Homo sapiens: one gene and its partners. The protein of the gene in region 2 purifies or fractionates together with the protein of the main gene of each other region. This does not show direct contact. Each region holds a gene or a part of one and is shown on either strand. Other genes may lie near its edges.

What was found.
Region 1: the proteins of C1orf87 (region 2) and HEPACAM purify together in Homo sapiens (affinity purification with mass spectrometry; 2 studies listed by BioGRID and IntAct, with this or other methods). This does not show direct contact.
Region 3: the proteins of C1orf87 (region 2) and HERC1 purify together in Homo sapiens (affinity purification with mass spectrometry; 2 studies listed by BioGRID and IntAct, with this or other methods). This does not show direct contact.
Region 4: the proteins of C1orf87 (region 2) and PCNT purify together in Homo sapiens (affinity purification with mass spectrometry; 2 studies listed by BioGRID and IntAct, with this or other methods). This does not show direct contact.

What each region holds. Positions count from the first base shown.
Region 1 is NC_000011.10:124,919,016-124,926,053, forward strand, and holds the end of HEPACAM (hepatic and glial cell adhesion molecule isoform 1 precursor), read right to left. Parts: intron 6,055-7,038; coding exon 5,713-6,054; intron 4,996-5,712; coding exon 4,714-4,995; intron 4,419-4,713; coding exon 4,325-4,418; intron 3,804-4,324; coding exon 3,730-3,803; coding exon of another isoform or gene 3,574-3,729; intron 3,444-3,573; coding exon 3,373-3,443; intron 2,426-3,372; coding exon 2,123-2,425; 3' UTR 1,003-2,122; coding exon of another isoform or gene 736-1,002; 3' UTR 190-735; downstream 1-189. Other genes in the region: putative cancer susceptibility gene HEPN1 protein, read left to right, coding at 736-1,002. UniProt on the Homo sapiens protein: Involved in regulating cell motility and cell-matrix interactions. May inhibit cell growth through suppression of cell proliferation.
Region 2 is NC_000001.11:59,989,865-59,993,779, reverse strand, and holds the end of C1orf87 (uncharacterized protein C1orf87), read left to right. Parts: intron 1-2,946; coding exon 2,947-3,107; 3' UTR 3,108-3,386; downstream 3,387-3,915.
Region 3 is NC_000015.10:63,608,081-63,613,949, forward strand, and holds the end of HERC1 (probable E3 ubiquitin-protein ligase HERC1), read right to left. Parts: intron 4,477-5,869; coding exon 4,171-4,476; intron 1,187-4,170; coding exon 1,001-1,186; 3' UTR 538-1,000; downstream 1-537. UniProt on the Homo sapiens protein: Involved in membrane trafficking via some guanine nucleotide exchange factor (GEF) activity and its ability to bind clathrin. Acts as a GEF for Arf and Rab, by exchanging bound GDP for free GTP.
Region 4 is NC_000021.9:46,320,291-46,327,182, reverse strand, and holds the start of PCNT (pericentrin), read right to left. Parts: upstream 3,028-6,892; 5' UTR 2,955-3,027; coding exon 2,901-2,954; intron 2,517-2,900; exon of another isoform or gene 1,973-2,516; intron 896-1,972; coding exon of another isoform or gene 807-895; coding exon 594-806; intron 1-593. Other genes in the region: uncharacterized LOC128092249, read right to left, coding at 692-895; uncharacterized protein C21orf58, read left to right, coding at 4,445-4,544. UniProt on the Homo sapiens protein: Integral component of the filamentous matrix of the centrosome involved in the initial establishment of organized microtubule arrays in both mitosis and meiosis. Plays a role, together with DISC1, in the microtubule network formation.

The DNA of each region.
Region 1 (7,038 bases), on a different chromosome or scaffold from region 2:
ATCAGCAGTGTCTAGCACAGGGCCTAGTCCATGGTAGGTAAACAAATGTTTGTCGAATAAATAAAAGAACACCTGAATAAGTAAATGAATGAACGGGTAAGTGATTTTGGAACGGACAATTTGGGGTTTGGAAAGAGGGTAAAGGAGGTGAAAGGAGAAGAAGAGAAATGACTGGTATATTTAAGCAGCTTGTTTTGTTACCCTTGTTTATGTGGAATAAAGTTGTCATTTCATTTCATCAAAAGTTTATTGAGCATCCAGTATGTGCTAGGCACTCTGCTGGATGCTAGTAATACAAAGATGAAGATGAAAACAACACAAAAACAAACCCCACTTCCTTACTTACCCCTCCCCACCCCCAATTTAAGGCAGATTTGGCTTAAGCCTGGCAAGCTGGCCCCTCAGGGATTCAGCACCAGGGTATGGCATGTTCTCATCTCACCCTAACCTTCACCTGTGCATCTCAAGGCTGACCAGCAGGTACTCCTTATCCAAGTCCTGCTGCCTCTTCCACCTTCTTGAGAAACTTTTCCCCTACATGCATTATCTCATTATGGATGAGGCACCTGGGAAGTTTAGGGGAGCTGCGAAGGCACACCTGCTCAAATGAGCCTGGGGAAGTGCCGAGGGACAGGGAGCTGAGACAGGCATGCTGTGGGGTTCAGGGCAGAGGGGGCAAACTAGAAATGTCAGTGCCTTTGGGGCTGAGACAAAACTTGACCTGGTGTGGAGGTGATGGGTAACTGGGGCCTTGGAATTGCTCCATGGGTTGATGGCGAATCAGAGCTGGAGTTTAGGAGACTAGGGATGCAAGGACCCTTGGAGGCATTAAGGAGGAGGGAATGGAATACACAGAGGGCCTCCTTCTCTTTCAGCTTTTTAATTGCCCTCTCTCCTCACACAGTAGATTACTGCCACTCCTATGAACTGTTCAATAGGCGGTGGCATGGGCATGTCCTGGCTACACAGCGGCCCAGCCTCTTTATTTTGATGTTAGTGTGATTAGGGAGTCTGCCCTTTTTCTGTGCCCTGGGACCTGAGCATGTGGGAGCAGGGCAGATGGGTGGCAGGAGGCCAGGGGTTGGATCATGTTCCCCCCAAATGCTGGGAAGCAATAAGCCTCCTCCTCCCCCCACCATTTCTCTGGAGATTAGGACTTATTCTCACAGCTGGAGGAAGCTCAACAACTTTCCTGAGGACAATGATTGTTTGAAAGGCTTGTTTTGTAAGGAAGCCAGGAGGAATATATGAGTTTGATGAGCTAAAACAGTTCCTCATTTGGTCTAGTTTTCGGGCCAGGGGAGTAAGTGAAATTCACTTCTCTATAAGAATAAGCCCATCCATCTCTTTTATTCATGAACAGAGACAGAAAGAGTGCTTGGCATGGCATGCCTCCGAGGGAGGCTGTGGGAGGAGGCCAAGCTGGCAGGCTCGGGTTCTTTGCCCTTGCTAGCGCCCAGGTCAGAGGGAAAAGGAATGTACTCGTACCCTTCCCTCACCACCTTGTAGGTCCCCAGGTACCAGGTGCCCAGGGAAGAAGGCCTTCACAATGATCCCCCCAGCTCAGAACAGCCCCTGCACACCCAGTAACCGGCATCTGGCTTCTCCTTAGCTTAGTGCAGCTGTGGATTCTGGGAAAGTGGCCTCTCTAATCTGAACTTGCAAAAAAAAAAAAAAAAAAAAAAAAAAAAAAAGTGCCCCAGCACTCAGGCATTTGTTCAGAGGGAAGGGTGGTGGGTGGGAAACAACACAGCTCCCTAGGAAGAGCACAGGATAGTCACGGGGGTTAGGTTACTGATGTTAGTTTCCATAAAACCCTTTTGGGTATTGGGCCAGAAATGTAATAATCTATGTGGTCCTAAGAGGGCACAACCTATACCAAGTGAGGACACAGCCAGTAAACCGGAAGCAAATGCGACCCGGTTTCACCATATCAACACTGCCGCCTCCGCGCACCCGCCTCCGTCTGCGCATGCTCATACACGTTCACACCCGAGACACCAGCGCCCCCCCGGGACCTCCCCTCGTCCCCAGCGCGCCGCGCCCGGGCTTCCCAGCCCCAGCTTTCCCCCGGGCCACTGGCCGCAGACCGCGGGCGCCTCTCAGGGGATCCCGAGGCGGCTCAGGCGCTGATCTCCACCGGGCCGGCCTCGTCTTGCTCGCGGATTATGTGCACGCCCGCAGTCCGCAGTGTGCGCGAGGCGCTGCGCGAGCGGCCGGGCGAGCTCGGGGCCCTGGGCGGCGACGAGTGTGTCCGGCCGGTGGCTGGGGAGCGCGCTGGGGAGCGCGGGTAGCGGCGGGCAGAGCGGATGGGCAGCCCCGGCGAGCGGCCGGGCACGGCGGGAGACACGGAGTAGCCGGGCGGGCCGGGCTCCGTCGCGCTTCGAGGCTCCGGGGCCGGGTTCTCCTCGGTCTCCGGGGAGTCCTGCAAGGACACGCGCCGCAGGGGTCAGGGGACAGTCAGCCCAGCCTGGGAGCGCGCCTGGTGTTAGAGCTTGCTGGAATTCCGAGGGGAGGGACCTAGTTTCCCTCTGCACGCCCACCTCCTGGAAGGCTGCAGACAGGTCTGGTTTTCCTGGCGATATTCCACACTGAGCATGGGGCCTCCTAGCACATAATAGGTGTTAAGTAAATGTTGAAATGCGATGATTTGAGTGCTTTTCCCCTTTACTCTCCTCTTTCCACCCGTCGTGGACAGCCTGGGACAGTTAGTTGTGGAATACTGGGGAAATCACCAGAACTGGTGTCCAAAGACCTAGGTTTGAAACCTAGATCTGCCACTCATTGACTTGTTTAATCCTGAGCAAGTCATTTAATCTCACAGCCTTGTTTTTTCTAATCTCTAAAATGTGCATGACACAAATATTTCACAGGGTTATTCTGAGTACTATAAAGCAGGGGTCCCCACCCCCAGGCCGAGGACTGGTACTGGTCCATAGCCTGTTAGGAAGGGAGCGGCAGAGCAGGAGGTGAGCGGTAGGCCAGAGAGCAAAGCTTCATATGTATTTACAGACATGCCCCATGGCTTGCATTATCGCCTGAGCTCCGCCTCCTGTCAGATTCGTGGCTGCATTCGATTCTCGATTCTCGTAGGAGCACACACCCTATTGTGAATTGAGCATGCGAGGGATCTAGGTTGCACGCTCTTTAAGAGAATCCAATGCCTGATGATCTGAAGTGGAACAGTTTCATCCTGAAACCACCCGCATCACCATCCATGGAAAAATTTTCTTCCTTGAAACCAGTCCCTGGTGCCAAAACCGTTGGGGACTGCTGCTATAAAGGGATAGGAATATAGTATGGCTCCCTAGCATCAGGCATGTGGGAGGGGATCACTGCATGTTTCTGGGCACCCAGTCCAGAGCCGCTCACCTTGTCCTTCAGGATATAGAGTGCCATGGGGTTCTTCCGTTCCTGCTCACCACTTCGAGGGAGGGTGTCTGCTGCACAGGGGAGAGAAGCGGGTGGCTGGCCCAGGTACAGACTCTCCCCACCAGCCGGCACCTACTCTCTGTGCTTCCCGAATGGCCCGCCACAACCTCCACCAACATATCTGAATATCCTGGCTCCTACCTTGGCCAAACCTTTCCCTCCTCTGCAGTCTTCGTGCAGTTGGTGGGGGAAGGGTCCCTGCAGAGCTGTTTTCCTTGTCGCCCAGTTCTGCCTTTTCCCAGCAGCCCACTGATCTGATTGTTGATGGGATGGGTGATTGGGTGGCTGGGAGCTCACCTTCTGGTTTCAGGCGGTCATCATTCTGATCCATGTATTCCAGGGAGTTTTGCTTTTCTAGCTTCTTCTGTTTCCTGTGAATCAATTCAGCCCCACTATGAGCCGAATTATTGAATGTGAGTAGAAGATCCAGTGGGGACACAGGGAGGGATCTGATGGCCATAAAAGAGGCCTTGTGACAGGAAGATGGGCTGGGTACAGTTCATGAGCTTTGGAAGGAATCACATCTAGGTTTGCACCTTGAGTCTGTCACTAGCGTTGTGACTGTGGGCAAGTCATTTAACCAATCCGAGTCTCAGTGTCATTATCTGTAAACTACAGATAATCATACTTAAAAGGTAGCAGGCTAACCACAGCCACAGTGCCTGGTCCCAAAAAAGGTGGTTGGCCAGTGAAAAAACCTATTGTTACTGGTGCTGGGGTTGTGGGGGCTTTGGAGCACAAGATGCTGGTGCATACACAATGGAAGAATGGATCTCTCGGAAAGAGATGCAAAACCCTGGGAGGAAAGGCATTTAAAGAGACTTAAGAAAATAATGGGGCTTAGGTTTGGGATGGATTGAAGGACTCAGGTGCTCAGGAGAGTTACCCAGACCTTTTGGAGGGTTTCCAGCAGGCACAGACTGTCACCAAGGTCACAAGGAGGAAGATGCCTCCTGTAGACAAGATGATGTAAAGGGAGCTTCTTCCTAGGGAGAGAGAGAAGCAGAGAGGCAGGAGGGACTTCAAAGGGGCAAGATGTGGTGAGCAGAACTTCCTGCCATGGATGGAAGAGAGGGGGAGCCCCAGGCTGCATGCCTGGCTGATGCTGGTGGTGGAGCTTGTACAGAACCCACTGGCTACCTGTTGGTGTCCTCCATGGATAGTTGGCCCATCTCTGTTCCCCTCCCCCCAGTGACATTTCTTTGGGATGTCCTCAGTCCCTCATGGTCACCTGCCTCTTGGGGCTTTGAGTACTAAAGGAAAGCCTGCGGGGAAACTCACTGTATACGGTGATCTTGACAGGCAGGCTGCGGCCCTGGCTGATGGGGTTCTCCACCATGCAGCTGTACAGGTCGTCATCCTCCATGAGCACGCGGGTGATGGTGAGCACCTTTTGGTCGGGGGACAGGAGCATTCTCGAGTCATTGAGGAGGGGCTTGCCATCCTTCAGCCAGGTGTAGCTGGGCTTGGTGCCATTCTCATGTGAGCAGTTCAAGGTGAAGGCCTCGCTGAGCTCCAGCACAGTGGTTGAAGCCACCAACACCTGTGGCCTCGAAATGGGCACTGAGCCGCAGGAATGGGGGAGCCTGTAAGTCATTGGCTAAGAAGTGTCTCCCTTCCCCTTTTTAGCTCCCTGCCTTCCAACACACCTTTAACACTACCTTCCAACTCAATCTGTGGGCTGAGAAGACTTCAGACATCCTAAGTCCAGTTCTTTCCCATCGCTTATTCATTCGTTTCACTGACTATTTATGGAGCACCAATTAGGCATGGCGGGTACAATGCTGAACAATGCAGACATGGTGTTGCCCTCATTCCCTCTTTCCAAATGCCTTGCCATGAACCCTGGGCTTTAATGTCTTAAACTGACCCAGCCAGGAAGATATTTCAGTTGGGCTAAGCCTAGGTCCAACTGTTTAGGTTCAAATCTTGGCTCTATCACTTCTAGCTGTGTGACCTTGGGCAAGTTATTCAACCTTTCAGTGGCTCACTTTCCTCATCTGCAAAATTAGGATAATGATATGAACTATCACCAGACTATTATAAGCATTAAATGAGTCAACATATGCAAAGCACTTAGAATAGTTTCTGGCACATGGCAATCACTCTACATGTTAGCTGTGCTGTGCCTGTCTGCCAACTTCTAATGTCCACTTGCCTCATTCTCAGCTCCCAAGTGCCTTTTGGGTTGGTTTTCCCTCAGTCTAGCTGGTGCGCTGGGCAGACCTTTCCCTAGTCCCACCTGCCAGTCTTGCCTCTTTCCCTGCCAGAGCGCTTTACCATCTACAGTAAGGTTGATGGTCTTCTCCCCAGTGAAGGTGTCGTCGGTGATGGAGATCTCGACCTCATAGGTGCCCTCATCGGCCAGCTGCAGGTCGCTGAGAAGCAGGGAGCCATTTTCAAAGAGTCGGATACGGTCTCGATAGTCAGGCCGCAGGGTGCCGATGACCTCTGTGCCAATGGACTGCACCACGGTCACTGGCTTGTCCCGCTTCAGCTGCCACTTCACTACAGGCCTGTCGCTGCTGGTACTGCTGTACTGCACAGAAAGCAGAGCCGACTTCCCCACGGTGCCATGGATCAGGCGCACGGGGCTGGTGATGTTCACCCCCTCCAGGGGGTCTGTGAACAGAGGCCCATGAGGAAGAGGGAAGCATCAGGCCCTGGGCTCCTTAGCCCACTCCCAACTTTAAGCCCTCTGATCTCCCAAAGCTTCGCCTCTCTGGCTCTTCACTCCCTGCCAATCCTGGCTTCTTAAGCCTGGGTGCTATCTCCTCCCCCACAGTAGCTCTGTGCACTTCTGCCCCTTTGTTCTCTCTCACAGCCATCTCATGGCCTTCAATGCTTTTTCCACCTAGCCCTCTGCCTCTCTGGCACTTTGTCTATTGCCTTTCTCTTGTGGCTCACCCACACCCTATGCGCTCCATTCATAAAAATATTTATTGAACATCTCCTATCTGCCAGACACTTTTCTATGTCTTTAGGATATAGCAATGAGCAAAGCCAACAAAAATCCCTACCCCTATGAAGCTTATAGGTCATTAGACCTCTGGGTGAATTTGTCAGATCTTCTTGATTGGGGATTGGGAGGGTGAGGAGATGGAGAAAGCATGGAACACAGATTCACAAAGAAAGGAGCGGGTCGTGAGACAGTGCCAGTAAAGGGAAAGTTTAGGGGCCTGAAGACCACTTTCTAGTTATACCGAGAGCCTCTTCCCGTTTTTTTTGCAGATGCATGTAGCATCTTACTAGGCTCACTCAGTGCAGAATAGTCCTGCAACTAGTAAGGTGGTTTTGGGAATTCACCCAAACTCCAGCCCAATCTGTACCCCTAGAAGAAGGATTTGCGATGGGTAGAACAAAGAGCTTAGAATCAGAAAAAGCTTTTTCATGCTGGGCTCTACCTCTTACTGGCTATGTGGATTTGGGTACTCATTCTTCTCATTTGTAAAATAAGGATAATAATAACAAGGCTGGGCGCGGTGGCTCACGCCTGTAATCGCAGCACTTTGGGAGGCCAAGATGGGCAGATCACCTGAGGTCAGGAGTTCGAGACCAGCCTGGCCAACATGGCAAAACCCCGTCTCTACTAAAAATAAAAAAAAT
Region 2 (3,915 bases):
TCTCAAAAAAAAAAAAAAAAAAAGGATTCTTATTATTTTTTTATTTTGGTTCTGGTTAGAAAAGACAGGCTTTCCAACACTAAGATGGATTGTAAGGGCTATTTTATGCAGCTGTTCTGGGCATCCCCTAATGACAGAGTAAATTAGACAGATACAAATTTCATTCAGTGGACTTTTTGTTTGACTCTAGGCATCTTCTATCAATGGTAAAGCTTAGAAGATAGAAAATACTACTGTGATTCCTAGATGTATTTTTTAACATAACTTTTAATTTTTAATTAAAATATAAACTAAATGCTATCTATTTTAATAAGCAATTACATATATACTGTTTATATATTTTTAAAATAATGTTGATGACATAATTATTATAATTATCCTATAGTAAAATTTCACATTATTGAGTGATTACTAGTACTGGATACTGTGTGAACTTAATATTTTATTGATTTTCACACAATTTAATTACCTCTGTTTTCTTTTCCTTCTTTCCCTCTTTCTTTCCTCTTTTGACATTTATTTATGTATTTATGTATTTATGTATTTATTTATTTATTTAAGACAGGGGCCTCACTCCGTTGCCTGGGCTAGAATGCAATGGCATGATCACAACTCACTGCAGCCTCGACCTCCCAGGCTCAAATGATCCTCCCACCTTAGCTGGTGCATGCCACCACACCTCACTCATTTTTTTTCTTACAGTCATAAACTTATTCCAAATCCATGTCTTATATTTCCAGAGGCAGGGTGTGGAGAAATGGCCAGAGGAAGCAAAGCTAGACAGGACTGAGAGCAGCCATCCTATCCAGAAAACTTCGAAGATGCAATTGGCCAACTCAAAGAATGAGGTTTACATAAATGAAAGGACCACTGTTCTAATAAGAGAGACAGACAATAAATAGGCAATGAACAAACCAGAACAGAATAGAAAATGAACACACTGGAATAGAACAGAATAAATTAGGACCCCACCTATTGTGGCCTACTGTTAAAAATAGCGATTAGAGAGTAGTTGAGAAGGTGGCACCATGCACAATAGTACTTGCACATTTAAAAATGAGTAATATTTGGTATCTTAAACTGAGATGATAAGTATCTACCATTGCCCAACTCTAATGGACTAGTAGTGGCTTTCCGCAAAATGACAAGGCACTGCCTCTGGATTCTTTAGGAAGGAATTTCACCATCACTCTTACAGTTCGCACATATGAAGGAGAGTAAAAGAGGCCAGGCACAGTGGCACATGCCTATAATCCCAGCACTTTGAAAGGCATTAGGGGGAGGGTTGCTTGAGCTCAGGAGTTCCAGACCAGTCTGGGCACATAGTGAAACTTCATCACTACAAAAAATAAAAATATTAGCTGAGAGTGGTGGCACATACCTGCAATCCCAGCTACTCATGTGGCTTAGGTGGGAGGATCCCTTGAGCCCAGGAGATCAAGGCTACAGTGAGCCATGATCGTGCCTCTGTACTCCAGCCTAGGCAACAGAGTAAGACCCTGTCTCAAAATAAAAAATAAATAAATAAATAAATAAATAAATAAATAAATAAATAGACCCCTACTTGAAGCAATCTCTTTTCCCTCATTCCATAACGTACTGTAGTGGTTAACCTTAGGCAATCAAGAGACTTGCAGTCTCTAGGCTTTAGTTTTGCCCTCTGTGAAATGGGTTATTGTAAGGATTCAATTAGTTAATATTGGTGAAATGCTTGGAGCAGTTCCTGGAACATAGTAAATTTTATATTTAAATATTGTTTAATTATTATTGTTGTATCCCAGTTAATTTTCTGAATAACTTCTCTCCCCCACGGGACAGAGAACTTCCAGAGGTAGCAGAAAAATTCTCTAAATCTTCTGTATTCCCAAGCACAGTATCTGACACATAGATATTTGCAATTAGGGGCTTATGAGTGAGTTATTGATCTTCAGTGATGCCGTGGTCTACACTGCGACTCCTCCCAACAGCCATCAAAATCTATCCAATCTTAACATGGAAAGCATACTGACATTGGTATTGGCATATATAATGTGTGGGTACCAGAGCATATCCTGCAGTCATACACATTACCACCTCTATTACGCAGATTCAAACTCTGAGCTATGAGAAGTTAGATGCTTCACCTGTGATTGCACAGCAAGCTGGAGGGAGTCACAGGACAGTCAGTCCTCTGCATCTTTGTATTCCGCAACTACAGATTCAACCAACTGCATATCAAAAATATTTTAAAAAATAGAAATAAAATATAATGACACGACAACAAAAAAAAGTACAAATTTTAAAACACAGTATAACAACTATTTGCATTGCAATTGCATTGTATTAGGTGTTACAAGTAATCTAGAGATGGTTTAAAGTACATGGGAGAATGTGTATAGGTTACATGCAAATACTACTCCATTTTATATCGGGGCTTGAGCATCCATGGGTGTAGGTATCACTGTTGGGGAGGGGAATATTATGGACCTAATCCCTGCAGATACCAAAGAACATCTATAAATACATTTAGAGAAATGCATTTTGAAAATAAGCTGTTTAATCCCTGCATGTTTAGGAATGTGTTTGGAGACTTTAACAAGATAAAAAGAACTCAGGACAATTAGAAGTTACTTTTGCTAGGCACCCCCAGTGTTTCAAAAATTGGCCTTACAAGTTTTAAAGTTACAAAGAAAAGCCTAAATTGCTTTAGAATTTATCTATGGATCTTATTGGATCCCATCTTGTTCTCTTTCCCCTGAAATCACCCTCAGATTCTTCCTGAAATCTGTGATGCATACCCACAGCTATAAATATTTTTTAATATGCCACTTGATTTTTAAGAAGCTTAAAATTGCAAAGTATTAGCATTTAGTCTTTACCTGGAAGTCATTCAAGCTAATATATAGTTTTCTCTGTTTTCCCTCCATCCTCTTTAAAAAACCTTCCTCCTACCCAATCCAATCACAGGAGTTCTGGAGAAGGAACGAGCCAGACGCCTCATTCACAACTACAATCTCATTTACAACCTGTCCCTGAGCCCTCAGAAAATCGACCAGGCCTTGCGCAGATTCCGTTCGGGAGAAAATATGCTCTTGGAGCCAGCACTGCGGTACTTAAAGGAGCTATGATAACAAGCCCATATTGTGAGAACAGATGTTTCCCTTATCTCCCTTTTTACCCAGACACATGTTTCTCCCCAGCCTAAGTGTAGTGGCGGAGGCATTGTCAGAGTGGAGGCCGATGCAGCTATTGTAGATGCTTTTGATTTGGACTTAGTTTCTGGCTATGATGCTCACTCATAAGCAGTTCAAAGTGATCAGAGGAAACCTAGTTTTATCTTTTGATGTGGCAAGAACCCAGCTACTTAGAATCTCCTTCTGTTTTAATAAAACTTATTATTAATATTACATGTTTGATTTTTTCCTACATTGCTAATCAAACTATGTTGTTTCAAACCCCACAATTCCACATAGTAAAAAAAACATTAAATGTTGCCACTTCCCCACAGTGCCTGGAACCTAGTAGACCTATGAACATCATTTTTGGATAGGTAAATCATCCCTTCTCCTGGTCATTATTCTAGGAAGGATTTCCATACCATAAGAAAAATAAAAGTATTACCAATACACTATCTTAATCTTAAGCAGTAGAAGAAACATTTCAAGTGAGGTTTTCTGAACAAGTCCAATATTTTCTGCAGTACAAAACTAAACAACATTACACTGTCTCCAGGGGTATTTTCCAAAAGTCCAAGATAGAAGTTTTGAGGAAGGACTCCTTGGGACAAAGCGTTTTGGGAATAGGTAACATCCTTTGCTCTGCCTGGACAGGAAAACCAGGTGGAACTTTCCATCAGCTCCCATAGTTCTTCTGTTCTTAACATCCCCCCTGACTTTGCACCACTCACATAGCACACAGTTACACACGTATCACACC
Region 3 (5,869 bases), on a different chromosome or scaffold from region 2:
CATTGATACATGCTAAGTGCCTGCTAGCAGTTGCTGGCCTTTCTGTAACACCTTCCACTTGGCTGCCCTCCCCACTGAGACATGTTGTAAACTACCCTGTTCTTTAATTCCATCACGTGCTCATTTTGTCTTTGTAGGTTCTTCATAGGAAGGGCCAGATGGCATTACTGTGGTCCTCTTCCTCCTTGTCTGGTAGAGTCGCCCTCCACATGAGGTAGCTGGGGCTGTCCAGAGAAGGATGCGTGGTACTGAGAGGGGCGGAGCAGCTGAGGGAACAAAGTCAGAGAGACCCAGGATGACAGAAGAACAATGGAAAATAGGGGCTTCCAACCCAGAGGGATCTCCTAGAACCACACGGTTCTCTGATACGTTATTTCCAAGTGAAGCCCACCCTCAATGTAAAGAAATGTTTCTGAATGGGTCAAAAAGCCATCAGAGCAAGACCAGCCTGGAAGCTCATTCTGTTCTGGGCTAATGTCTGCCTCGATGGTAACCCCTAGTCAGAAGCTCCGCAGGAAGCAATACCAAGAGCCACGCTCCAATTCCTGAATCTGCTTTATTTCTCTGCATAAGGAACCCTGAACAGGCAATTCAAATTAAAACAAAATAAATATATGAATATTCATGTAAAACTGTCCTTTCTAATGAACAATTATACACAATGTACAATTTCATGTTCACTGGGTGGATTTACAAAAATGTACCATTCCCAACTAAAAATGCACCAAAATGGTTTCATGCAAACTTATCAAAAGTGACCAAAAATATGGAGGGAAAAACCTGACTGAGAGCACTTCGTTTTTGTTGTTTTTGTACAATCACAGAAAAATAAAAACATCTAATTTCTTTGTTACATTTAGAGTAACTAAATGTGGCCATTGTTTATAATGTTGGTTTATGTTCTTATAACATCTATGTAGTTACCATAAAAGTATATCAACATCAAATCAGAAGTGAGCATTATTGAGGGAGAGAAGGGAGGGTGAGAGCACCCGCACGGTCAGTAGTCAGTGTCGGAGCCCTCGGCGTTGTCCACGTTTCTCGAGAGCATGTAGTTGTCCATGTCGATTGAGCGGCAGTTGTTGATGGCATAGCGCAGGCGCTCGGCCATGACCAGCTGGCTGGAGTACGGGGGCAGCCTCAGCTGGAAGAAGCAGGTCTGTGAGGTAGGCAGACTGTCGTAAGGCTGTGGAGAGAGACCCAGAGCCGTGACTGGGGACATCAGAGTGCCATAAGGGGGAGTGGGGCTGCCCATGACCTCTCCCTGCCTTCAAGATGGAATTAACATGGCCACATGGTTAAGTCAAGTGGACACAGAGACTGGGCCAGATAGAATGAGCTGAGGCCCTACTGCCCCGTGGCCCTCGAGGCTCTGGGTGAAGATGTTCCTTCTTGTCCTCACCTCCTCCAGTGCCTGTGTGTGTAAAGTGAGGAGAAGCTCTGACTGGCAGGATTGCTTGAGAGAATACACTACGCACAGCGCCTGGCACAGGATGAGAGTGTAGTAAGAGGGCACCTGTCCTTCATACCCATCCACCAAGAGGGTGCAGACTGGAAGCCAGCTGCAGGGATGCCCCCACAGAGCAGGTAGAATGGAAAGAACGACTGTGAGGTGCAGCTGGCCATGGGAGCCTCTTTGCCCCCTCTCCTCTCCCTGTCCTCATGTGCATTCTGCCTCCTTTGCAGGCGCCATGGCTGCCTCGCACAGCTCACATAAGGAAGGGGCAGTCAATTAAACTCCAGTCCATCCATTCAACTGACGGTGATGCATCATTTAAAATGATAATTATGATGACTGGCAGCAAAACAGAAAGGTGTTCAGGATACATTAGGAGGTTAAAGGCAGAAAAAATTCTAGATACATCATATAAAAATTTGTACAATTGAGGCAAAGACTATGAGGAATTTCACAAAGGTAAAAATAGCTACTACTGGAGAGACAGGATTATATACGTTCCCTATCCCTCCTTGCAAACATAACTATTTTCTAAACAATTTGTAATAATAGTAATGGCATTATAGTGTTTTTATAAATTTTTAAAACGTTTGCTTAAAAAAAAAAAAAAGAACCTGTCTTCTCTCACTCAACCTCCTCTTGAAATCAGCCCTCCTCCCCAGAGCCCACACCTAGGTAAGCCACATGTCCTGCTATGGGAGGTGGATGGCCCAGCAGCCCAAATGCACCAGAGCCAGTGATGACACAGCTCAACGCAGAAAAACTGAAAGCAGCAAGGAAGGGAGGTGCCACTAGGTGGCTCTGATGACCTAAATGTGAGTACTGTAGAAATGATCTAAAAGCCACAGAGGAACCGACCACGGTAGTCAGTTACTGATGCTGACAACCCTGAGACCGGAGATTAGTGGTGGATTAACTCCTAGAACGGCAGGAGTAGCCCAGGACAGATATAAGGCAAGGGTTGTTTCCAGAGCTGAGTAGAAATGAGCCATTTCCTCCTTCCTACTTCTCTCTGAAGCAACAAAACAGATTTACAACTTACAGTTCTTGGCAAGTCATGCAGAAAATTTATGGAAAGGCTCTTTTATAATCCTTCCTGCACGTGGCTTCTCCAGCAAGCCTAGCCCAGGAGCAGAGCAGCAGCCTGCAGCCTCAGGAGGCAGCACAGGGAGGAATAGCTTTGGCTACACCAGAAAGCCAGACACTTAAACTGGCAGGAAGGGCCTGTGTGTGAAGAGGCCCCACTTCCCTTACTGTTTTCTGAACAAACATCATGGGCCCTGCTCAGAGAACTGCCCAGCTCATGTGGGAGAGAGGGCTTGTGAAGAGTGGGGATGGAGACAGAGGGAGGAGAGGCACTCCTAACTGAATGCAGTAAGTTCTGGGTTTGAGGGCTGTACCCAGTGTTCAGGAGGTGGAGAGAAGGAGTCTGGCTAGGTCTGCCTTCAGCAATGGTAGGGGCACTCCTGGAAAGCATCTAGGAGGGGTTCTTGGAGGAGATGACTGGCATTGGGCTTATAGGATGAGTAAGTGCTTGCCAGAGATAGAAGGAAAGGGGTGTGAAGAAGGACTTACTAAAGCAGAGGGAACAGGTTACATAAAAGCACAGAATTTTAAAAACAGCCTGGTCTACTGGGGAGAAAGGCAAGCAGCCCATTATGACCAGAACATGAGAAGTATCAAGACGTCACATCAGAAAGTGGGGCAGAGGCCAGACTGTGGAAGTGTTTAAGGCAGCTAAGGTCATTGGCATTTATTTCGGAGTCAACAAAGGGGGTCTCTGAAAGGTCTAAAAGGAGGAGAGTGACATGGTCAGACAGGTGCTTAAGAAAGATGACTCTGGCAGCAGTGTGCTTTTCAGACTCTAAGCCCTCTTATTCCTAAGCCATCTGTCAAAATCACAGCTGGGCTGGGGCTCTGCAGCTGGGGCCTTTCATCAGATGGCAGAGATGCAGCCCTGCCTGCTCCACAAGGCACACAACACAAGTGGGCACAGAGGTTATCGTTGCTCCCCACATCTTTGGGTTCCTTCTGGGGCACACCCACCAGTTAATGGTTAATATTTTCATGAAAACAAACAAGGCCATGCCTCAGCACAGGAAGAGGCAGTATGATGATCCTTCTGCCAAGTTCAGCTTTAACTCAGGAAGATGCTGGAAGATTTAGGGAAGGTTGTTGGTTGTAGTATGCTCTCTTCATCCACTTAGGACTCTTCCCACTGAAGCTAAATGATATTTCTAAACAAATTTTACTGCTTGATTTTTTTCATTAATCTGGAAATTCTAAGTATTAATAAGCATGAATCGGCAGGCCTACTTGAGGGTCATAGTTTGTTTTCCCCAACATAAAAGCAACAAGGCGCAGAGGGCCAGGCGTGTTGGCTCACGCCTGTAATCCCAGCACTTTGGGAGGCCAACGTGACCAGATCACCTGAGGTCAGTAGTTCAAGACCAGCCTGGCCAACATGGTGAATCCCCGTCTCTACCAAAATATACAAAAAAATTAGCCAGGCGTGGTGGCACGCACCTGTAGTCCCAGCTACTGCGGAGGCTGAGGCAGGAGAACTGCTTGAAGCTAGGAAGCGGAGGTTGCAGTAAGCTAAAATCATGCCACTGCACTCCAGCCTGGGCCACAGAGTGAGACCCTGTCTCAACAAAAACAACAATGAAGCAATAAGGCAGACATTACAAAGGAAAAAAGAATAGCTTACTTACCCTATCAACCTTCATGATTTGAAATCTCTGAGAAATGTCAGCAGTGTTGGCTGGTAGTCGAGATCTTCCTGACACAAACCTCATGAAAAGCACCCGCTCCTCATTGGAGAACTCTTCCAGCGTGTGCCAGAACCACTGCACCAGCTGATGCTGCTCATCCACCTCACGGTACCGCACCACTTTCTTCAAGACTTCCACAGAGATCTCGGGCATCCCACACACCATCTGCTCCAGTTGTTTTGCTGTGAGGAGGGACAGCAGCGGCACAGGAACAATCCAGGACATCCCTTCTCGGACTGCAGCCACCTGCTCCCGGGAGAGGTTGCTCATTCAATGAGTGTGCGTGAACCTGGCACCCACCAAGGGCCCTGTGGGGCTAGGCGCCTCCTGATGCCTGCTCGTCCGCTCCCCAGACCCTCTACTTGTTTCTCAGACCGCCAGGCACGAGAGTCAGTCAAAAAGGCCCACCCTCCCTGCCTCTCAACCCTTGTTAGAGTGCCTCCCTGCTGTGGGATTCTTACACTCCTGGTTCCAGTTCAAGTCCAATTTAGGAGCCTGCCTTCCCTCTACCACAAAATCTCAGCCCACTGGGGCCTTCCCTGATGCCAGCCCCACTCACTCATATTCCTAATCATATGTGCCCATGTGCTGTCAAACTATGCATGTGTGGACACTTCATCTCATAAAGGTAAGAAGCTTTGGGGGCACTCAACTAGCTGCCTACTGTTTTTTAAATTTATATTTGTCTTTTGAAAATAATTATATCCTTTTTGTAAAAATTATTTGTGCTCATCGTAAAAAAAATCTGAAAAGTACAAAGAAGAAAGTAAAAATGGGAAGTCCTTCTTTAGGAAGGCAATAGAAGAGGCAATGAATTTAGTGAAGAGACTTGGGTTCTAACTCCCAGCTCTGCCAATTATTAACTCTCTTAATTTTTCCGTCTGAAAAAAGCAGATATTGCTGCTCTCATGTGGCTCTGATGAGAACTGTATATGAGTAACTACATGAAATTCTGTGTGACTGGGTAATTCTACCCTGCTCTGTTCTCTTAGCATCATAGTGCTGGGCACAGGCAAGTTGGGGAGTGCCAAGTAGGGTGCAACCAGGGGCTGCCTTGACAGCTTGTTTAGAAAAATGTCTCCTCCAATATTATACAGTAGTGCATACCCTACACACAGACTCACCACTGTTCAAGGTTTGTTTCATAAATACTTCTTTGCTCTTGGCCAACTCAAAACCATCTACCACCATTTAAAAAGTCTAAGAATCTGAATAGGGACCATACCTTAAGGAAGTGAGTAACTATGTGAGGTGATGGATATGTTAATTTGCTTCACTATAATAACCTTTTTACTATCTATATGCATATCCTATATTATCGTGTTGTACACCTTAAATATACATAATAAAATTTATTATATATATAAAAAAAAACTGGGCCAAGTACAATGGTTTGCCCTGTCATCCCAGCTACTTGGAAGGCTAAGGCAGGAGATCCCTTGAGCCCAACAGTTCAAAGCTGCAGTGAGTGCCACTGCACTCCAGCCTGGGTGACAGAGCAAGACCCTCTCTTAAAAAATAAAATAATAAAAAACTGGCACTAAGGTTGTCCCATAAGGATCAGAGATTGGCAGTAAAGGCAGTCTCTTCTGATAGTAAAGGTCAATACCCCACCAAAGTCTGCCAAACGAAAACAAAA
Region 4 (6,892 bases), on a different chromosome or scaffold from region 2:
AGGCTGAGGCAGGAGAATGGCATGAACCCGGGAGGCGGAGCTTGCAGTGAGCCGAGATCGCGCCACTGCACTCCAGCCTGGGAGACAGAGCGAGAATCCATCTCAAAAAAATAAAAAATAAAATAAAAAGAATAAAACCATAAAAATTTACTCACTGTTTTTTTTTTTTTGAGAGAGAGTCTCGCTCTGTCACCCAGTCTGGAGTGCATTGGCGTGATCTCGGCTCAATGCAACCTCTGCCTCACAAGTTGAAGCTATTCTCCTCCCTCAACCTCCCGAGTAGCTGGGATTACAGGTGTGCGCCAGATGTCCGGCTAATTTTTGTATTTTTAGTATAGACAGGGTTTCTCCATGTTGGCCAGGCTGGTCTGGAACTCCTGACCTCAGGTGATCCGCCTGCCTCGGCCTCCCAAAGTGCGGGGATTACAGGCGTAAGCCACTGCACCCGGCCCTCACTTTTTATAAACTAAAATAACACCCTCTTTCCTCACTTTTGAAAGGCAAAAACAGACCAAAGACCATCTTTAGTAAATCACACTAGAAATCACTAGAAGATAAGCGAAATGTTCAAATACAACATTGAGCAAATCTACCTGAGCTGCAAAGGCCCCTCCTGCCCCATCAGGGGTGTCGTCACATGATGTGCTTTTGCAAATGTCCCCTCCTCCACAGAGTGCGCTGTCCTCCTTGGTTACCGGACTCTCCTCCTGGACAGACGCATCGACAGCCGAGCCCTTCCTCTTCGCCGTCTTTTTCTCCGAATGCGAACTGTCACCTTTTGTTTTTCTCTGTCGGAAGTGAGCAAGCTGCGCAAAAATGTAGATAAGTAGTAAAGGCAAAGGTAAGTGAGAAAAAAATAACAGAACCACAAAGTCAACAGACTGGTGGGGACCATGAGGCCCGAGGGCTGACCCAGTCTACTCTGCCACACCTGGCCAACAGATGGCTCTCCACAAACACTGCCTTCATCAATATCTATATCCAAGGGGTCTAACAATGAGGACTGCTAATTATGCCTGGTAAAGAAAACCATACGGCTGATTGGCAGAATAGCTTTCCTAGCCCTTGGCAGTTTACAGAAAAATAAAACTTTAAAAAAAATTTGTATAAAAGATTGATAGCTTAATCAAGGCATATTTAAGTTTTAAAATGATATAAAAGCTAAATCTCTCCCTTCTTGCCCCAATTTTCCCCCAACTGAAGAAATATATAGCCCAGCCAAAACTTCCTAGCCATAGATTCTGAGACAAGATACAGAAATAGCAAAAAATTAATTAAGCCAGGTCAATCTCACATCTTCCTTTATGGAATCAGATGTTCTATTTTTCATGACACAGCTCACCAAAGCACCAGGGACATCCACAGAGCATCGCCCATCAGAAGGCACAGCCTAGCTCTGCTCAGTCCTCAAATCCGAGAGTTTGAGACTATGTGCGAGCCTCATCTCCCGCTAACGTCTTACTCAAGAGGTATGCGATCGATCCCACATCAGCCTTTCACGGGGAGACATCTGTTCCCTCAAAAGACAACTGTGGCCACAAAAACAAACGCATGGAACACACATTTGTGTAAATGATAACACAAGTACACAAGCTCATGGACCCAGAAAAATTACACAAGGCCATTTACACAAGAAAATGGTCTCTCAAGGAAATATTTCCTTCAAAGTCAACCTCATGTCGTTTATTTTCATGTCCTCCTCCACCACACCTATCCATGTCGGGATATAGCACAGACCTGGTCTGCGGCCTGCGTCGCCCTACAGGCGGCGTCTTGTCCCTCCCTCCCCCCTCCACCCTCCTGGGAGCTCTGCTCCTGTTCGCAGCTCCCTGCAGGCTCCGGGCTCCCCTTCCCCTCCTGCCCGCCTCAGCCCTTCCCCGGCCTAGCCCCGCGTCCCCTGTCCGCCGTGCCCGGGAGCCCCGCTCTTCCCCAGCACCCCAGCCAGAACATCCTGGGGGGGAGCGGCGCGCACCTCGCAGAGGCCGGCCTGCTCCCGCGGTTCCGCCTCGCGCTTTCGGGACTCCCTTTCTCCTGCCCCCGAGTCATGGGCTCTGCGCGCTTTATTCCCACGAAACCTAGGACAGTGGCCATCAAACCGAGCGCTTTTTCACGGAGAAACCCGGGGCGGGAGAAAGACGGGAGCGCGTCCCTTGAAGGCGCCCGGCGCCAGCGCCGCGTGGGTTCCCGGCAGCGTACGCCAGGCCCGGACGGGCAGGACGCGAGCCCAAGGGCGCGGGAAGAAGACGGCGGCCGGGAGCGCCGCGGGGGCCTTTCACACAGTAAGGACTGCAACGCCGCGAGAAACGCGCGGGGAAAGCATCTCCGACGGACGAGGCGAAGGCGCACCCTGGGGAGGCGCTGCAGGCCACCCGCGCCACGCCCCCGGCCCCGGCCGCGCAGGAAACTGGCCCTAGACCAAGCAGCCACCCGAATACCGGCCGCCCGCCCCAGGCCACCCGGTCCCGGAGGACGCGGGAGCCACTGGAAGATCCAGCCTGGGGTCCAGCGCCTGCCGCGCCCCACCCCCTCCGTGCAGCCACGCCACGCCCCTGTAGCCCCGCCCTGCAGCCACACCCCGCCCCGGCGTGCACCGCGCCCAGCCCGCGCCCCACCCCCCCCGACGCAGGCGCAGCCCCGCCCCGGCCCGCCCGAGAGGCGCCGCGCGTCCCGGCCGCTGATTGGCTGTGGCCGCGGCGGGGGCGGGACCTGGCGGAGAGCGGCGGATTCAAGATGGCGGCGGCCAGGAGGCGGCTTCCAGCGGAGCCGGCGGGAAAAAGCGAGACCTCCGCGGCGGCTTCCGCCGGACCGCGTCCTCTCCTGGCAGGGGGCGGTGGCGGGCACCGGAGCCGCCCTTAGGACTTCACGCCAGAGCAGCTAGAGAAGAAGCCCCTAATGTTTACCTTCGTCCTCCCGGCCTCCACCTTTCTGCGCCGCTGCTCTTGCTCAACTTCCATCTCCCTCAGACTCCGCGCGGGCCGCCCGGCGGTGACGGGGCTGACACAGAGCAGCCTTCGCTCTATTTACACTCCCTCCCCCGCGCTTGGGCTCGCCCTCCCCCCGCGACAACTGTCACGCAGCCGCGGCCCCGCCCCCGACACGCGCCGCCAATCAGGGGGCTGCGTTTCCGGTCTCGCGCACGCGCGCTCTGGGCGGTGCAGCCTGGGCGGAGCCCCGCCCTTTACGCTCGCCGGCCACAGATTGGTGCGCTCACGTACCCGCCTCCTACGGCAGGACCAGTAAGCGGAAAGCGGAGGCCTGGCGCCCGCTGTGATTGGCCGATTTTAAAATCCCCTGCCAGGCTGGCCGAGCGGCAAAAAGTTCGCGCTGCTGGTCCCGCGCGGGCGGCCCCTGGGCTTTGTGTCCACCAGGACAGCGGGCCGGGCTCCCTGCAGGCGCGGGCGGCGCCGAACGGTGCTCAGCAACCACCCGGACAGGGCCAGGCCGTTTTCTCCCGCTCAGGCATTAGTCGTTGGCTGTGGGCCGCCGCGGGAAGTTGAGGCCTACCACGGAGGAGGCTGCTGAGGTGGATCTCAGGGGATCCGCAAGGGCTCCCTCACCCTTGCCGGGACCCTGGGAACCCGAAACAAAATCCTACGCCACCAGCCCGCCGAATGCGCCCCCTCGGCCGGGGGTCCTGGGTCTTCAGAGAAGAACTCGGCCGAATGCGGTCAGAAAGCCCGCGAACCGCCTGGACCTGCAGGCCCCGCCGCTTGGAGCTCCCGCCTTTCCCGACCGAGCCCGTGTCTGCTCGTGTGTCTCACTGATGTCTTAGGTCTCAAAAAAAAAAGAAAAGAAAAGGTTTTTAGTAGACAGAAGAGAAATGGGGCCGTGGGTTCGTGGTCCCAGGGGGAAACTGACGTCGCATGAGGTCGTCGTCCCTCAGCTTGAGCTCAGCGGAACATAAGCTTGCAGAGGTGGAAACCACGGAAGGTTTGGGTGTCTTGGAGCTCTCTGGACACCGAAGCCCGGACACAGTCCCGGGGTCCGCACCGCCTGTGACCTGTGGCGGGACCGCCGGGGTGGGCGTTTTCTCAGCTGGCGCGCGCGTAGGTGGAACTTGGGAAACTAACTGGAGCGAAGTGGCAAAAAACCAAGACAGGGCCGGTGACCTCGCGCAGGCCGTCCTTAACTGTGGAGTATTCCTTCAGCTAACCCCTTTATTTCATGTGTCCAAGTCTGGTTTCTGGGTTTCTTTGTAGTCCTCCGGGCCTGTTCGTGCGCCTTCACTTGCAAAAGGTTCGTCGTGGAGGGCCGTGTGCTTGTTTGCAGCAGTAACGATGCCCTTCCCGAGCGTGCTGGAGTGGCTCCTCGCTGACGCAAGCTCACCTTGCAGCCTCCTCAGCAACTGCAACTTAAACGCGCCCTCAGGAAGCCCTGGAATCTCGCTCAGAATTTTTTTTCTTTTTTTGAGACAGTCTCGCTGCGACGCCCAGGCTATAGCGCAATGGCGCGATCTCGGCTCCCTGCAACCTCCCTCAGGAAGCCGTGGAAGCTCGACCGCCAGAAACTTCCTTCTCCTGACTCAGGCCACAGTCTTCTGTGTGGTGAGCGGGGTGTCCAGCGGTCTCCTGGTTCCCAGACTCGGAATTGGGTGGTTTGAGCAAACTCTGGGCAGTGGGCTCATTAGAGCAGGGGCCAGGCAGGCAACACAGCCAAGCGAGCAGGGGCTGCACCCACAGGATCACACTTTCCAGGAACAGAGACCCAGACCGCGCCTGAATCTCACAACTGTTACGTGTTACAATACATTTACAACTGTGGGACTGAGGGGATGTGCCCAGGTTTGCCTAGACTGTGTTCCTCAGAACCCCAGAGTCGTTTCTGTGGACATCCTAGAGAGGTTCTGCTAATGTTGGACTTGGGTCTTATTTCAGTTCTTTTTTCTTTTCTTTTTTATAGGCAGGGTCTCAGTCTGTCACACAGGCTAGAGTGCAGTGGTGAGACCACCGCTCATTGCAGCCTCAACTTCCCCGGGCTCAGGTGATTCTCCATGTCAGCCTCCTGAGCAGCTGGAATTACAGGCACACCACCATGCCCAGCTAATTTTTGTATTTTTAGTAGACACAGGGTCTCACTGTGTTGCCCAGGCTGGTCTTGAACTCCTGGGCTCAAGTGATCCACCTGCCTTGGCCTCTCAAAGTGCTGGAGTTACAGGCATGAGCAACCTCGCCCAGCCTCAATTCATTTTAAACTATTAAAAAGCTGTCAAGGCCAGGCAACCACTGCACTCCAACCTGGGTGACAGACTGAGACCCTAACTCAAAAAAAAAAAAAAAAAAAAGCTGCCCAGATAAATTTTGTAGATACTCACCCTCAAGGAGGGAAACGTAACTCCCCTCTCCTTAAGTGTAGACCACACATAGCCACTTCCTCCCAAAGAGTGCAATAAAGAAAAGGAGGGAAAGAGCCACTTTATTGTGGAGAAAACTGGCAGACTCCACCTCAGCCAAGTGACGCAGGTCAGCCTCACAGTTATAGTCGAGGTGACAGTGTGTGTCCCTGATGTGATGGGGTGACAGTGGCACTTCACCCCTAGATGCTTCCTTTCTGTAACCTGCAGTCCCAGTCTAACCAGGAGATAATAGACACATTTTAATTGAGGGACATTCTTCAAAATATCTGCCCAGTACTCTTCGAAACTGTCAAGGTCATCAAAAACGAGGAAAGTCTGAGAAGGAGCCTAAAGACACATAACTCAATGTAATGGGGTGTTCTGATGGATACCACATTAGGGACATGAGGCAAACCTAAGGAAACTGTCAAAGTGTGGACTTCAGTTACTTGTGTCTCAATATTGGTTCATTAATCATAACAAATGGGCCAGGTGCACTGGCTTTCACTCAAAAATTAGCTGGGCATGATGGCACGTACCTGTAGTCCCAGCTACTCGAGAGGCTGAGGCAGAAGAATCGCTTGAAACTGGGAAGCAGAGGTTGCAGTGAGCCAAGATTGCACCATTGCACTCTAGCCTGGGCGTCGCAGCGAGACTCTGTCTCAAAAAAAATATATATATATATAACATATGTAGCACACTAAGGTAAGATGTTAATAAGAGGGGAAGCCACACATGTGGTATGTGGGATCTCCATGTACTATCTTCTCAATTACTCTAAATCTAAAACTGTTCTTAAAAACCCTATTTAAAAAAAAAGTCTGACAAATCCATGCCCTCTGGAGCATGTTATGTATACTACTAGAGATCCCGAGGAGGCAATTCTTAGTGCTTCCCATTCACTTGGCAGTCACAGCTGTGGGCACACAGGCTCAAGTCTCTCCTTAAGTCAGTCAGTATTACAAACCATACATAATAGTATACTTGACCACTGCATAAATGTTATAAACATTCCACATCAAGAGAAAGAGGAGAGGAAAAAAAGTTAACCAGTTCAACGAAAAGGAGAATCTGGCAAGGAAGCATCTCTGATGTGGGCAGAGCCTGCAGCAGCAGATGTGGAGGGCTTCTCACAAGTGACAGCAAGACTGTCTGTAAAACGGCCACTTTGACCTGGTGGTGTTCTGCTCTTTTCATGGCCATAGAGTACTCTGGTAAGGACTGATAGTAAGAGTGTCTTGTTTATGTCTTTATCTGGGTGGGTGCAGTATCTACTGATGAGGAAACATCTGGTCCCTGTTGGCCTGATACCCTTTTTTTTTTTTTTTTTTTTTTTTTGAGGTGGAGTTACACTCTTGTTGCCCAGGATGGAGTGCAGTAGTGGTGCCACCTTGGCTCACTGCAACTTCCGCCTGCCTGGCCCTATCTTATAATTTAAAAGGCATCAGGGGCCAGGTGCTATGGCTCACACCTCTAATCCTAGCACTTTGGGAGGCCAAGACGGCAGATCACTTGAGGTCAGGAGTTCGAGACCAGTCTGGCCAACATGGTGAAACCCCA